Regions from separate parts of the Homo sapiens genome. Here region 2 is linked to region 1. The links come from fine-mapping of genetic effects on gene expression. Tissue or cell type: whole blood. Region 1 holds a variant in brackets; the other region holds the start of a gene. All regions are shown on one strand. Distances are between the middles of the regions.

What was found. PIP is the estimated chance that this variant, and not a neighbour inherited with it, causes the effect.
Region 2: it holds the start of SCYL3, and the variant in region 1 is fine-mapped to the expression of SCYL3 in whole blood (INTERVAL, PIP above 0.99).

The regions. Positions count from the first base shown.
Region 1 is chr1:169,936,569-169,944,755 of GRCh38, forward strand. All of the region lies in intron 19 of KIFAP3 (kinesin associated protein 3), which reads right to left. Among named protein-coding and RNA genes, the nearest start is that of SCYL3, 47 kb to the left of the region's middle. RefSeq lists an enhancer at 4,687-7,370. The variant T/C (reference allele first, on the strand shown) is at 4,181.
Region 2 is chr1:169,890,411-169,898,597 of GRCh38, forward strand. It overlaps SCYL3 (SCY1 like pseudokinase 3), which reads right to left and starts at 3,486. Exons shown (of 13, transcript NM_020423.7): 1 at 3,378-3,486. RefSeq lists enhancers at 2,654-3,241, 3,242-3,829, 3,504-3,913 and silencers at 2,924-2,983, 3,224-3,303.

The sequences.
Region 1 (8,187 bases):
GTCAAATATTGTACTGCTTAGCTTAGAGTGCTATAAAATCTGAACCTACTTACTTTTTTTCTAAGAAAATTCACATTCTCTAAATTTTGTGTGTGTGTATAAGAAGATACTAAAGGTCTGTGTTTTTGTACTAGAAGTAAGTCAATGAATGACACACTCCACATAGCATGCTCTTTACAAAAAATGAGGGGGAGTATTATTTAAGATAATGTGGCATTCTTTTCTAAATATCATTAATTCTGTTTCCTCTTAAAATTAAGGAGAATTCAGAAATGTTTAAGATGTTTATTCTGCTGGAAATATTTCCAATAGACAAATATTATTTATTCTATTTACACTAGAATAAACATCTTAAACATCTGAGTTCTCCTTAATTTTTAGAGGAATATATATTATATATATATATATTACTCAACATATTGGAGTAACATAAAAGTGGGCAGAAACAGGTAAAAGACCATTGATGTCCAGATACTGACAATGTAGTATTACTTTTATAAGCCTGATAATACTATTACCCTTAAATATTTTCAAAACAGAAAGCTGAAAGAATAATAAAGAGAATGCTTTAACTCATCTCAAAAAATTATATTTTTAACCCTGAACTATATAAGCCTCTTAAAGAGAATGAGATTATTTCTTACCGACCTCCATATCCCTAGACCTCATCCAAGTGCTTGTCAACTAAAAAGGTTATGAATAAAGGAAATTTTAAGTGTTAAAAGCAAACATTAAATGATTCTATATTTTATCCTATATTTTGTGCTTTATAAAGTTAATTTCACCTGTCATCACAGAAACTTTAAGTAAAATTATAAGTATCTTTTGGAAAGAGCAGCAATAACAACATAAAAATCCCAACAGTATATATGCTATTTTTATCATTTATTGACTACTAACAGACCATTAGTTATAACCTGGTAATAGGAAAGAAACATGAACAAGGAAACTCTATTCATTTTAAGTATGGAGTAGTATTTGTTGCTACAGAACTTAAGCTATTGGACTATGAAAACTAATACAGATTTTTAAAATATTCTGATTATCCTCTAAAGATACTCTAAAAATACAACCAACTAAAGATATAACTTTAAGATACAAGTCTAAAGATACAACTTTAAGATCCTCCAAAGATACAACCAACTTTAAGATCCTCTAAAGTCATAACCATCTTCTAAAGTTACACCATCCTCTAAAGATACAGCAGTAAAAATTCTTAATACAAATACTCCCTGATGTTTAAACATGGAGCCATTCCTCCAGGTGCAACACAAAATTTACAACAAATCAGCAATGAAATTGACTATAACTGAAATTATGTGACTTCCAAGCATGTTTTCTACTGATCTTTCTCCATGAAAAATATAACTCCAAGAAAATAATTATTTTGCAATTCTAGTCAGTTGGTTATTGCTATTATTAATGAGATATTGAATACTAATCATATTATTTCTTCCTCTGTTATGGTGAACCTATAATGTTTCTTTAGGCTAGATTAAAGTAGATGGACTAGAAATATGATTTTACACACTTGTAATATTGGGACATTATAAGAGTTGCTTTTGAAAATAAAATAAAATTTTTCTATGATAGAGACTGTGCTTAGATGGGTGTTTCTCAGTATATTTAATTAGACTTGTAGTAGTATAATACAAGTACACTACGAATCCCTTAACTGGATCTTAATTATGAAGGCAAGCATCTTCATCTATGTAAAATATAGCTACTTAAGGTCTGTTTTTATCTTACCTAGGTTATTAAAAAATTTTCCCATATAGCATAGGCTCCTATCAACAATTTTATAATACAAAGCATATGATACTATAAGCAGGATATATAATACACATCTATTTGATTATATATTTAATAGATGGTATGCATTGTACATTTGAAAGGATACTGAAATAGTAAAAATTAAAATTAAGAAATTATAAAAAAGTTCACATTGAAAATGAAACAGCATGGGAAATGGAGTAAGACATCTATGTCTGAATACTGGCTCTGACCTTTAAAACTTCTATTAAACAAACGTCTATTGAGAACCTAGTGGTGCCAGTAGATAGAACTTTGAAAAAGACAGTCAAAGTTCTTGCCCATCTAGAGACTGTATTCTTGTGGTAGGAGGGAGAATAAACAAGTGAACAAAAATTAAATTACTAGGTTAGATGAGGGAGAAGCAGCTTCTTTGATAATTCTCTTAGGAAAAGATTCTCTGAAGAAGGAATATTTGAACTGAGACTTGAAAGGTAAGAAGAAGCCAGTTATTTAAAAAGTCAAAAGACTATTCCAGTTAAGCACAAAGGTGACAAAGTGCGAAAGAACTTGGTGAATGTCTGGGGAAGAGAAGGGAGTCCAGAGTGGGTAGAATTAACAAGCAATTATAACTGGAATATTTGATGAGGCTGGAGATGTAGATAAGTGTCAAATAATGAAGGACTTTATAGAACATGGTAAGAAATTTGTATTTTATTACAGGAGTATGGGAAGCCATTGAAGGCACGTGAGAGACGTGATATGACATACTTGAAAAAGATCATTATGGCTACTGTGGAAAAAATGAAGCAGAAGGGAAGTGCAGAAACAGGAAAATTAATTAGGCTATTGAGTGGTTCAGGTGGCAGATGATGGTGGCATGGAATAGGGTACTAACAGTGAAAATGGAAATAAATAGCCAAATTTCAGATCTATTCCAGAAATGAAATGAAAACAACAGGGCATGCAGATGGTTTGCAGTGGAGAGAGAGGGTAATGGTGAAGAAAAGGGAGATAATAAGGAAGATTCCAAAGTTTAAAGCTTGAACTACTAGGTGGGATGGTGGTGACACATACTGAGACGAGAAGATTAAGGGAGGAACCTGTTTATATGTGAGAAATCAAAAGTTAAGTTTGATAATTTTATTAAACATTCAATTTGATAGCATAAGGAATAAGGATGGTGCTGAGAGGACAAGTCTAAGCTAAAAATATAGGTTTACAAATGGTACTTAAAGCCATGGATCTGGATGTAATCCTAGGTGTGGTGGGTGCAGTTAGAAAAGAGGGTCCCCCAAAACAGGGTATGGATAGAGAACAGGGATATAGCCCTGAAGTAACCAGCATTTAAATGTGGAAAAGAGAAGGAATGGCCAGCAAAGAACATTGGGAAGAAATGACAAAGGGCTTAGGAGGAAAATCAGAAAAATGGGGTATCTTGAGAGCTGAAAGAAGGGAGTTTCAAAAAGCAGGGCCTGGTCAACTGTGTCAAAACCAGCTGAGAGGTAAAGATGAGAATGGTCCATTAGATTTGGCAATATGAAGACTATTGGTGATTTTGACAAGAGTGGGGAAGTTGAAGAGCACATGCAAGTCTTTTGAGAAGTTTTGGATAAAGGGAATTGAGAAACAGGAAGCAGTTGGAATATGATGTGGGGCCAAAGAGTTTAACTTTGCAGATTCTGATTTATGTTTATATGTTGACAGGAATGATCCAGTAAAGGGGAAAAGAGTGACAACATAAAAGAAGTCCTTGAAAAGACAAGAATGGGGTCTAGAGTAAAAATGGGTTTATTGGATTTTGAAAAAACTTCTTTCATTGTAATAGAAGAAAGGTGGGCAAAGGTAAGAATAGTTTATTGATTGAGTGGTGGCAAGATAACCTGGGGTAAGTTGCTTAAACCTACATGCTTCAGTTTTCTTAATAATAGTGTCTCCCTTCTTCAGCTGTTGTGAAGAGTAAATTAGATAAGGGATGTAATAAATAGCAATTCATAAACTGCCTGGAACTCACTAAATATATTTCAATAATTGCCATCATCATTATTGGTCCATCTATCTCATATTGTACATAGATCTGAAACCATTTAGAGCAGCAGCCCCGAACCTTTTTGGCACCAGGTACTGGTTGTGTGGAAGAATTTTTCCATACATGGGGGAGGAGAGACGATTTTGGGATGAAACTGTTCCACCTCAGATCATCAAGCATTAGTTAGATCCTCATAAGGAGCACACAACATAGATCCCTAGCATGCAGAGTTCACAATAGGGTTTGTGCGCCTATAAGAATCTAATGCCGCTGCTCATGCAACAGGAGGTGGAGCTTAGGCAGTAAGGTTTGCTGGCCTGCTACTCACCTCCTGCTGTGTGGCCAAGTTCCCAACAGGCCATGGACAGGTACTGGCCTGGGAGTTGGGGACCCCTGATT[T/C]AGAGAATACCATTTAAAATAATACAATTAGAATAAAGATTGTGTATGTCACTGAAGTCAGCATTGTTTCTACTCCTTTCCAGCAGTTTCATTTAAAACTCTACTGGACTGTTCATGTCCCCAAAACAAATTCTTTTGAGCAGTTGCACTTGTTTAAGAATTATGTGTGTGTGTGTGTGTGTGTGTGTGTGTGTGTGTGTGTGTGTTTAAAGACAACAAAAACTGAAGAAAACAATGTTTACTTCATGAAGAAACTTTCTGTGGACTTGCAAGGTTAGAATTTTGGGCAGATTTAAAGTTGCAAAGAAACGAAGAAGCAAACTATAGAAAAGGCCCTCAGATAAAGTCTAAAATTCTGTTTTCATCTTCATCTTTTTTTCACATGCAAACTATTATGTTACAATTTAAGTAGACATAGGTCTATTTGAAAACAATTCTAAGAGTATAAGCTACATTTTGAAAGTTCAACATTCTAACATTATACCTAATACCTTCTGAAAAGGCCCTGTGAGTGCTGCACCTCTTTCCTTTAAAATGTTCAAACCACTCCTCTTACCCTCCTCTTGTATTGGGGTAACTAACAACAGGCATTTCCCCAAAAGTGGATCCTCTTTTTATCAGGAGATCTGACTTTACTGTCCCCAATTCAGAAACAGTCTTCTGAGTTCTCAATACACTTTTGGTTATTGCTTTTATGGTAGTTGTCTAAATCAATAAATATTACATATTTTTTCTTTATCTCAACATTTTGATTTTTATGAGGATGAGAATAATTTTTTCTGTGAAATTAGATGGCTAAACAGTAACTGTGACTTCAATCTTCTGGGAAAATATAAGCTGATTTCCTTTTTTGATTTATTTTATAAAATTTCATATTTCCATATATAAATTTGACCTAATATAAATATACAATAAAATATATTTATCAATGACTATCACCCAAGATGGCCCCCTGAGGGTGAATTTCTTGACAAAGAAGTTGCTAACTTCCAGTTGCCAACCACAAAAACAAAGCAGTAGAAAAGATAAGAGGTGTAAGTAAAAAATATATTTAACCTGTATTAACTGAATCAGGTAATTAATGCCTCAATTGAGAGGTTTCATTGTAACAAAAAAGAAAATAAATATGATTCTTTATGTACTTTACTATGAGGATGCACATATTAATGTATAAAATTCAGCTTGCTTAAATGTGATTTTGAAATTCTATTGATTTATTCAACATATTCATAGTATTTCCTTTATGTTTGTAAGGACCCATTTGATAAGATGGTATAGTGTGTGTTAACAACAATGTTATTTTTACTCTAAGAAGAGCTCTTATAAAGTGAAACTTCAATTTTTTGAAATCCTTGAAATTCCCTTAAATTTCCTTAAGTACTGTGGTGTCTTCTCTATAATGAAAACTGAAAAATAATGTTATGACTCATTAAATAAACTCAGTAAGTACAAACTTATGTTGAAACTAAACATACAAAATAACTAAAGAAATAACAAACCATTTTATTTTATTTGAGGAGAAAAAAGAAAAAAAGGCTTGGTCTTTAAAAAGGATTAAAATAAACTCAATTTATGGAGTCTTGGAATCTTCACGGCAGTGCAGACGGACTTCCACTTGCCCTCCCCTGGCCCACCTCCTGCACACCTTCTCCTCTTAGTTTATTCACATTTTAAATCTTTCTTCCAAGTTTGGCCTGCAACCACTTGACTGGATAAAGTAGGTCACTTGAAAAGGAAGAAAGCCCAATAAAATGAATTGCAAAGAAAACAAGATTAAACTGATTGTGCTGTTTTCATACATTGTAGCTGAAATTCTGCAAATATGCAGTTGGCTGTGGTTTGGCATTCAACAGAATGTGATCAGTAAGGAGGAAATTTTATTCTCATTAACTGCTGCAGATTTACTGCAGTGAAAAAGGGCTATGTAACCCAAGATGTGACAGTACAGAAAGATCAAAGCCATGGACTGGAAACTAAATAAACCCTCTGGCTACTTCCTGCAAGGAAAATTCACTTTGGCAATGTAGAACAGAGCCCAGTTAAAAACTACTCTCAGTTTTATGAGCTGTCATAGCAGTTCAAGTGGTTTGGACTGGCTGAGTTTATAACATTATATTTCCTTGTTTTTGTCTTAGATACTTCCGTAAGCAGTTTTAAAGACGCCCCCCCCCACCCCTTTAAAAAACACAACAACAAAAAACTAATTTCTTTTGATTGAAACCAAGAAGGTAACCACTAAACTTATTAACGCAGGTAGGTCTTCATTTGCAGATTCCTTTCTCATTTAATACAGCTTAATATTTTATTCTTAGATTTATTTGGTAATATAAATTTACTTAATAATTCATCTACAATCTGTATAATTCCTATTCAGAATAAGTGCAAATCAGTTTACAGAGCCCATATGGCTCATATCTGAGGAGTAAGCTATTTGTAATAGCACATCTGTAAAGACTATGGGCAATATGGAGATTATGGGAATTAATATTACATTTAAAATTACATTTGAAAACCTGTAGGCCCTAGGTTTTAGCTGTTTCTTAAAAAACAAATATCTTAGAAAAAATATCTAATATTTCTAATATAAGAAATCTAACAACTGTTCATAAATAGTTAAATTACATTGTTAAATCAATCAAGACAACAATAGGCTAGATTAAATCTACCTTAAATTAGAAAATATCCCTGAGTTAAGGAGTAAGCTCAATATCATTACACTCATATTTAAAGGAAATAAAAGATGACATGCTCTATTTCTCTCCCTTATTTTTTTAAGGGGGAATAGTGATGCTTATTAACCAATTATATACAATTTTGTTATTCTCATTATAATATGAAGGAGCAAGCCTTTATGACGGTAATTTGCATTATATTACCTTAAAAATCATTTTTGTTTTTTACAATAAGAGCATTTCTAGGTCAAATATGTCATAAGAACCGTCATCCTTGCTTAAAGACTTTCTTTCTTTCCATTTAAATTTACAACTAATTTCTATCTGTAAAGCCAACAAAAATGCAATACATGTGAAAAGTATATGACGTTTAACACTAGATAATCACTCTTAAATGGTGATGATATAATTAACTTGCCAGACACAACTGGATTGGCTTCTGTGTCATTTTTTCTAGTACAAAGCTGTACCATAATTGACATGTTAACATTTTTAAAGGTTCCAGTCATATTCGGGTTACGTTTTAAATTTATAGACTCAATTATGCTGAATTTCTTCTACTAAGTCAAAGTCCTAATGTCACAGGATCCTTGGGGTGTTGCTTTGCCACCCAGAAACCATTGTGGCTGGCGGCACCTTCTCCCTGAGTATTGTTTGCGCCCGCTGGGCTCGTTCTGCCCACTAGGCCCGATAGGCTGTGCTCAGCTTGAGCTACCAACCTGGATCCCACACCTGCCAAGGGTTAGCCAGGTGTGGAGCGGCGAGGTTGTGTGGGTGACCAAGCGCAGGGTCTGGTCACCACGCACAGCAGGCATGCTGGCTGACTGGCTACTATGGCAGGGTGGTTAGCTCCAGGCACTGGTACAGGTGCTGGCTCTGTGTGAGGCTGCAGATGGACCAGATGTACCGCACGCAGCTTCTGCTCTGAGCAACTGCGTCTGGATGAGGGAAACACAGAGGCGCCCAGAAACCTGGAGAAACTGGGAACCGCAGAGCCCCACAGAGGGTGTCACATCCCTGGCTCAGGAGCAACTACGTCTGGGCTCTTGGAAGAGCCACAGCTCTTCCCTCCTTCTCGTTTCCCACAACATGGTGAGTGGGGGCGACGTGTTTCAGCCCCGTTTGTGTTACAGCTCTTTGAGTCCTGCCATTCAGGTCCCAGGTTCTTGTTTCCCATCCAGGAAGAATGAGGTTAAGTGGACAACTGGAGGGTAAGCAAAGGGGAAGAGGAGCTCCATTGAGTGACAGAACAGCTCTCAGGAGACCCAAAGTAGTAGCTCCTTTCTGCAGGCGGCCTGATGAGTGTCCAGCTCTCAGCAGAGAGGAGATCTGCAG
Region 2 (8,187 bases), 46 kb before region 1:
ATAATTCTATGTAGGCCTTTAAAAATTTGTTTAAAATCTGTATTCTTTGGACAAATATAAACTCAATAATCATTACACATTGACCCTCTACTTGGAATTTTTCCCCACTTCGGTGAAATTCCATACAACACCTTCTACACTGGGTATGTAATGCTGCTCAAAACACATGCCTAGAACAAAATTTAAAGTGCCTACCGATCCACAACCATCGTTATATAAGAAACACATGTATAAAGGCTAAAGCTATCTAAAATTGAAGATTTTCAAAATCTAAAAATGTTGCTGAGAATAAGAACTAAATCTGCTTTGTAACAAATTCACTGAATTCCTACCTACCTGGCAATGTATCTTTCTTAAAAATGACAGAGAAGCAAAAAACAGTACTAAAAGAAATGCCAAGTATGGCAACTATGGTAACATTCACCTTTCTACTGGGACTACAAATAAAAAGTTTATGTGGGACCATGGGTAAAAGCAACAATGCTAATCCCTCTGTTCTGGAGATAGAGTGCTGGCCAGATTGTCACAACCTCCTGCTGAGTAGGGAGGATTATGCTTAGCACTTGATCTTGCCACCTCTTCTTGGGCACAGTTAATGTTGGCAGGTACCTATCCTGGGCCAAAGGGCGGTTAATTCACAAATTAGCCATCAATTTCATGGCCTGAGTGAAGAGATAAACTGGCCAGATCATTGTCTCCCCCAGGAATTTGAACTAAGAACAATTTTTGCCTATTAGAAGCATAGCCGAAGGTAGAAGGATGCTATGAGGTGGAGGTGGAGCTACGGCAAACCAAAGCCACATGAAGTCAGAAACTTTCCAGAGGAAGTCAGTTGGTAGTAAAATTTTAAAAAGCAAACACTGGGACCGTAGCTTAGTCATACTTAGGGGGCACATTACTACTATCCATCTCAAGACTACCGGAAGCCCAGCCTCAAATCTAATTCCACCCAGATACCCTAACATCCCATTGACACCCTTACAACCAGCCCCCTTTTCCTCAGGTAACTTGAATGGGTCTATGTTCTTTGAAACTAATTGCCATTTCATAGGCAGAAAGCTCTACTTGGTCTCCAACTCCTGCCTGAAAAGCCAGTCAGACTGGAAGAGTGAGTTACAGAAGTGTTACTTTGAAAGTATCTGAAGCTAGTCTGACCGTCTCTCTCTCACCCACAAAACACAGCTTTCCAAAATCAACACACAATTAAGAGAAAAGCAGAGAATAAGGGACTGTATATTAATGAATATCTTCTTCGCAGGAAATCATGCTGTTTATTTAAGTGTTAATATTAATCCTCATGGGAGATAAGACTGCCACCAGGATTCAGGGTCAGTGCTCTGGCTGATGAATGGCAGTCACCAGAGGCAAGAGAAAGGAACATTTAATTTACTTAGCTATTTCTAAATAGCAAAATACTTCCTTGTGGGAACATTGGCCTTGCAATAGCTATTAACCTTAGATTTCATATGAATTCCACTATAATTAACAAAGTTATAAAAGCATTAGGAAGTAGTTAAAATTCATTTTTCTTACTGTATTTTAGGTCTAAGACTAAAAAAATCACTTAAAAATTAAAAAGGGATGACTCAATTTCTTGAGAGAACTGGAAAGGATGCCATTTTCTTGTTTTGAAAGCATGTTAACTTTGACAGAAGTCCACTGATACCATCAGTGTAATACTGACAGTGGTAAGATTATATTGTATGTTCCCAGTGCAAACTTTATTGGGGGAAAATTAAAAAGGTGTGCTGATTATTGCAATTTGAGAATGTTTTGAAGCAGTAATTCTTCACACTAATATATCTAAAGAAGCACAAATACTGTTATATGAAGAAGTTTTTTTGTTTGTTTTTTGTTTTAAATAGAGATATGGTCTTGTTCTGTTGCTGCTGGCCTAGAGTGCATTGGCGCTATCCTATCTCACTGTAACCTGGAATTCCTGGGCTCAAGCTACCTGCCCTCCCCAGCCTCCCTAGTTGCTGAGATTACAGGCATGTGCCACCATGCCCGCCAGTGCTTTAAAAATGATAATTCAGCTAAAATTGATTTATTGAAATGTAAGAAAAACACTTGGCCTTCCAAAATGCTTTCCTGTTGTTTTGAGGACGGGGAAAACACAAAATCTTGCTCATTAGCTTTGAAATTAAAAAGTCACAAGAAGGTAGAAAAGGATATCCTAGTATCCCGTAATAGGTATTTCGTAGCACTTAGCATCTCCACTCTATAATAAAATGCTGAGTTGACAGTCTCTGACTTGAATATGCATCAGTCTTCCCTTTAATAATCTCCCTCCACTCTTTTGCCTACTTGGGCAGCACATAAAATTTCTGGACCGCTTGTAGATTAAGAAAACCCTTGTCTAGGTCAAAGGGCAACTCATACACTCAACTAAGAAACCCGTGTGCTCTATGGAAATGTTTCTACCAAATATTTTCTTTTCCCAGCAATTACTCGAGACTACCTTGGTCCTAGCTCCCTTAGCTTGAAAGTTCCAAAGATAATGGCTTGCACTCTGAGTATTAAGGATGCACTGTACTGGCTGATATTCTGGTATCCAGCGGTAACGTTACTCCGGCCCTTGCTTTCGTGTTTCAGGTATATATTCCCTCTGCGGAACTCAGTCCAGCATTGCTAGCTGACAAGCAATACACAATTAAGTCTTTATGGACCAAAATAATTGTGATTTCAGCTCAAGATACATTTTATAAGAACATGGGTCCCTAAAAACAGCAGTTAACAGTGACCCCCAAAATTCGAGACCCGACTCCGAGAATTTCACATGGATTCCTGAATATGCTCTTCCGAGAAATGTTTCATCTTTATTCTAAACAGAAAGCACTATGCCAAGACAGGAGCCAGCTGGGCCTTGGGGGACGGGCACTGGTCTTGGATCAAGAATGAGGCCGCCTTCCCGAGGGCGGGCGCGCCCCCAGGATCCCCCCGGGCTCGGGCACTGCCGCCCCGGGACAGTGACCCGCCCAGCCGAGCACCCTCGCCCTGCTTGCCGCGACCCCGCGGGGTCACTGAAGGGCCGAGGCGCCGCTCTCGCTTCGCTGGCCCCTCACCTTCCACACCTCCCTGCGAGGACCGACTCCGCGGCCGCCTTGGAGAGCTCTGGCCGCGGGCGCCTCACCCGTCGGGGGCCGCCCGCGAAGCGCAGATTACAGGGCGCCCCACAATCAGCAAGGGGAGGCTGCTCCGAAGCTGAGAGCACAGCTCAACCGGCCGCCGGCGCCGCGCCGAGCTCGCTCCCGCGCGGGCCCCAGAGCGCAGACCCGCGAGCGGGGCGCGCGCCCGCCGCCTCCTCCCCGCCCGGCCCCTTCCCCCACGGCGCAGTCCTGCAAGGACTGGGGGCGCAGCGCAGGGCTCCCTGTTACCTGCAGGAAGGCGGCGGGGGAGGAGGCCGAGGGTCTTGGCTCTGGTACCCTGTTGGCCCCCCTGTTGACACCAACCACCCCTGCCTGCCTGTAAGGCTGTGGCCACTACACCCACAATCTTCTGGGGGCCGGGTTTCTCCTACACCATAGAGACGGGTCCGGAAACGGGACAGAAGGCCCACCTTCCTCCCTCCGACGCCACCAATGAGGCCAACTAACCAGGAACCGAGGTAGAGAGGCCGCACAGCTGAGTCTCAGGCCGGTGCCATCTTAAGTGTGGGCGCCGCGACGATACCGAGTTTCACTCACTGCCCCAGTGGTCTAGTTAGTCCACGAAGATGCCCCCTTTCTAGATGTGTTGGTCGAATGCTTAAGTTTGTCTTGACTTGAATTTTTAGGCTTTTAACAGCACAGTTTTAATTTCATTTCCGCCCAAATCCAAAATGGCTGCTGGCCACTTGTAGCAAACAGTAGAGGTGCAGGGCGGAGAAAAGGAGTACGGGAATTAGCGAGGACTTTCAGGAGAGTGACGTCACTCAACCTGTAGCTTTGATTGGCTGGGCTGCGAGGGTGGAGTCGTGCAGAGCCGCTGCTGGCGGAGGTCGTGGTGATCTCGCTTGATCTTTGAGAGGGAAGGTCCTGAATCACATTTCATTTAGCAAAAAGTAATATTTGAAAATTTTAATATTAATGCAGTAGTTTTGCCCCCCTCCATGCTTTCTGCAGTGTCAGTTACCTGTGGTCAAACCTTGGTTCAGAAATGTTAAATGGAAAACTCCAGAAATAAACAATTCTTAAGTTTCAAACCGCCTGTATTCTGAGTAGCCCGATTAAATCTCGGGCCATCCACTCTGTCCCACCCTTGACGCGAATCATCTGTCGCAGGTAGCCGCGCTGTGTACAGTATCCACTCATTACCCACTCAGTAGCTGCTTTGGTTAACAGATGCACCCGTAGTATAGCAGAGATAATGAGAGATACCACCTGCTTATGTTCAGGTAACCCTTATTTTACTTAATAATGGCCGCAAAGCACAGGAATTGTGCTGACAATTTGGATATGCCGAGGAGAAGCTGTAAAGTGCTTCCTTTAAATGAAAAGGTGAAAGCTCTGGACTTAATAAGGAAAGAAAAAGAGTCATATGCTGAGGTTGCCAAAATCTATGATAAGAACAAATTATCCATGAAATTGTGAAGAAGGAAAAAGATTCGTGCTAGTTAACTAAGCACCTATCATGCACTGTGGCTGTAACTTTTGTAGTTTGAGGTGCAACAGCAAAAGACGGAAAAGGCATTACATTTGTGGGTGGGAGACATGAACAGAAAACGTATTTCAGCTGACCGCAGTAAGTTTTGCCAGAAAGTGTTGAGCCTATAGGAAGACTTAAGAAAGGGATCCCCTGAAATTAGGCACACCAAGCTATTTACTGCAAGTAAGGGATGGCTACACAGATTCAGGAATAGGTTTGGACTGAAAAACATAAAAATAACTGGAGAGGCCACATCTGCTGATGAAGAAGCTGCCACATGTCTGGCAGAGTTGAAGACATTGGTTAAGGAGAAAGGCTTCCAGGAGATTGATGGATAAGTTAGGAAAATCATTCAGGTAGCAATGAAACTGCCTTTGCAAAATTATGACTAAGGCAGTTAAAGAGATCCAATTTAACCAACTCCATCTTGTCCTTAACCTCCATGCTATCCTTGTTCATTCCTGGGCATAGGCTGAACTAACTTTGGAAGGAAATTAGTTTATAATTTACAGTTTAAAACAAAAACAATAAAAGCCCTTTCCCAAAACCAACCTCCTTCTTGCCTGGGGTCTAGACTACCAACATTAGCCACAAGATTAGAAATTATGGTTTGGGAGTCATGCAGCTGGAGGCCACAAGATTCTGACCCTCCCTAAACTGCTCCTGAGATCAGTGCTTCAGATGTTTTGCAGACCCTGCACTTGATGGATCAGCTGGCAACACCCAGATGATAAACTGGCCCATCTGATCTTGTGACCCCCACCCAGAACTGACTCAGTTCAAGAAGACAGTGATGCCCCATAGTTTCATCTCCGACCCAACCAATCAGCACTCCCTGACTTACTGCCCCTCCCCACCCACCAAATTGTCTTTAAAAACTCGACTGCTGGAGGAGACTGATTTGAGTAATAATAAAACTCTGGCCCCCCACACAGCCAGCTCTGCATGAATTCTTTGTCTATTGCAATTCCCCGTCTTGATAAATTGGCTCTATCTAGGCAGACGGCAAGGTGAACCTACTGGGCGGTTATAGCAAGACAAGTTGGTGAAAAAGGATTTGTCAATATGCTTGATGAAGAGGTGGGAGAACATATCAAAGGCCTCACTATCCATTCTGAGGACAGGTTTAACCTTCTCAAACTAGAAGCAGGGCTTAGTCACCCTGGACAGTCTCTAGTTCTGTGCCTCCTCCCACTTCCTCTATGTGGTCAGTCCAGACATCTGCCTTGTATGACCGCCTCTGGTGACCACCTCCCTATCGAACCATCAGGTACAAGCTGCTTGCTTCATCCCCTTGACCCCTATACCCCACATATACTTTGCAGATATGCCTCAGTGACCACCTCTTAGTCACAGTGGGACTAAGATGTTGGACCCAGGACCACAGTGAAGGCTTTGGCCCGCAAGTCCCTCTCTCTGTCTCGTCCCCCTCCCACTGGTTGAGCATGTGTGTCCCCCTTCTCATTGGCCCTGTGAGGCATGCTGTCCTCTTATTATGGATCTGTAAGTAATGAAACTGCTTCTATTATTTCACATGTTTTGTTCACCTCCTCTGTGTCTCACCTGACCTATACACCCACACCTGACTTGTTTCCTGGTTAGGGCTCTCCTAGAGAGTGGCTGTCTTGGTTGGAATAAACCAGACACGGGGCAGACAAGAGCCACAAATGTGCCTGCTAATATAAACAAGCTTCCTGTGAGAGGGACCTCCTGTCATGGGTCAGACACCTAGGATTTAGGCCGTCTGCCAGGATAAAGAAGTATTCCATGGAAGGCACACTGTAAATATCCAAGCCCCATCACGGAAGAGCTAACGTTTATAACCACTCCCAGAGAGAGACCTCGAGACCGAATTAGAAAAGAAATACAACACATAGACCCTAGGTTTACTAGCTCCAACATCCATTCCCACTCCTCACCCCCTTCTCCCTTGTTCACCTTCGATAAAGAAGTTAAGAAATCAAAAAGATCACTTTCTGAGCCTACTTTCCCGCTAGGGTGGTCACAAGTTCTGGCCGGTGAGACATAGCAGAAGTTGGGAGGAAGATAGACAGTGGATTAGGAAAGGTTTTTCCTCCCTATTAAAGGAAATGGCTGTGGGTGTAACAGCAGCAGCCACCCAAGCACCAGGAGACAGCGGGAGAACATGCTGAGGATGTCGATTTGAAAGACAGAAGGATTCTCTTGCCTTTCACACTATCCCTCGAGAGTTCATAACTATGTTTTTCCTCCTTTTACAGGAGGAGTAGAGATGAGTCCCTTCAACCAGTACGTGAAATCTTCTGCAGTCAACACAGCTACTTGCTGGCCCACCCTCTTCCCAGTGTCCTCACCTCTGAGTCTTTGCTGGCCTTCCCACCCTGTTCCTTGCTCCCTAATCTTATGTCCAGATGTGCTGAGCTCCAGGGTATCCTCTATAATCATTCATCAGCCTAGAGGACTCTGTATTTCCTTTCATTTCCCCAAGGTAAACCCACTCCTCCAAATATCAATGAGAAGGGAATATTTTGCAGTGAATGGAGTAGGAGAGAGATGGGAGGGAGTTTGACACTCAGTCCTTCCCCTCTTCACTCTTCATCTACTCACCTATTTGCTCTTGATGTCACTCAGGTCTCTGAACAAATGTCACCTGTTCAGACTCTTAAAGATTTGGGGCATTGAAATCACAGGCTAACTTGTATATTTTTGTCCAACAAAGATGCAAATCTTTCTGTCCAGTGGAAAAGTTAACCCCAAAGTTTATTCTTATTGCACTAGAGAGCATTTCTCATTTTAAAATCTAATCTAGTAATCTTACTGTATTTCTTTATAAAATTGCTTGTAAGTATGTAGCTACACAAATGCTCTTTGAACAGTCTTAATGTCTTTTTAGTTTCCTCATTAACTAATGTGTTCATTTTATATTTGCATGAGAGTTATAATTATATTTTGAAAATTCTACTTGAATGCAATTTATCAGAGACAGCTCCCCTGAAAACACTGTCTAAAACAGCACCTTACCTGCCTCTTCCTGTCTTTTGACTTTGCCTTATTTTGCTTAACACCAATGCACATATTTGTTCAGCATCTCTGTCCCACAGCTAGAACATCAGCTCCCTGAAAACAGGGCTTCCTTCCTTCATTTCTTTCTTTCCTGCCATATTTCTAGCACATAACACAGTGCCTAGAACATACTAGGTACTCAGTAAATATTAAACACACAAATGAATTTACTGAGAGCACACTGCATGTCCCAGGCACCCTCCCTACATCTCTCTGCCTCCCAGCCCTTACCCCACAGAGCCCTCTATAGCTCTGGTTCCAGTTCTCAGTTCCCTGGAGCTGCTCTCTGAGCTCCTTCTGCCTTTCTTATGCATAGAAATCTTGTATTCCCTCACTGATTCCTCAGTCCTCATTTTAAATATGTCTAAGGCCAGGAAAGAAAAGAATCTCCAACAACCTGAATCCGCTGTCCTTGGAATGTGGCTGGTGGGACAGTTAGAAACAAATAGTTTGTTTTCTTAATAGAAATAATTTTTTCTTGTCATACTGTTTAAGGATCAACCTGAATTTTACTTCCAA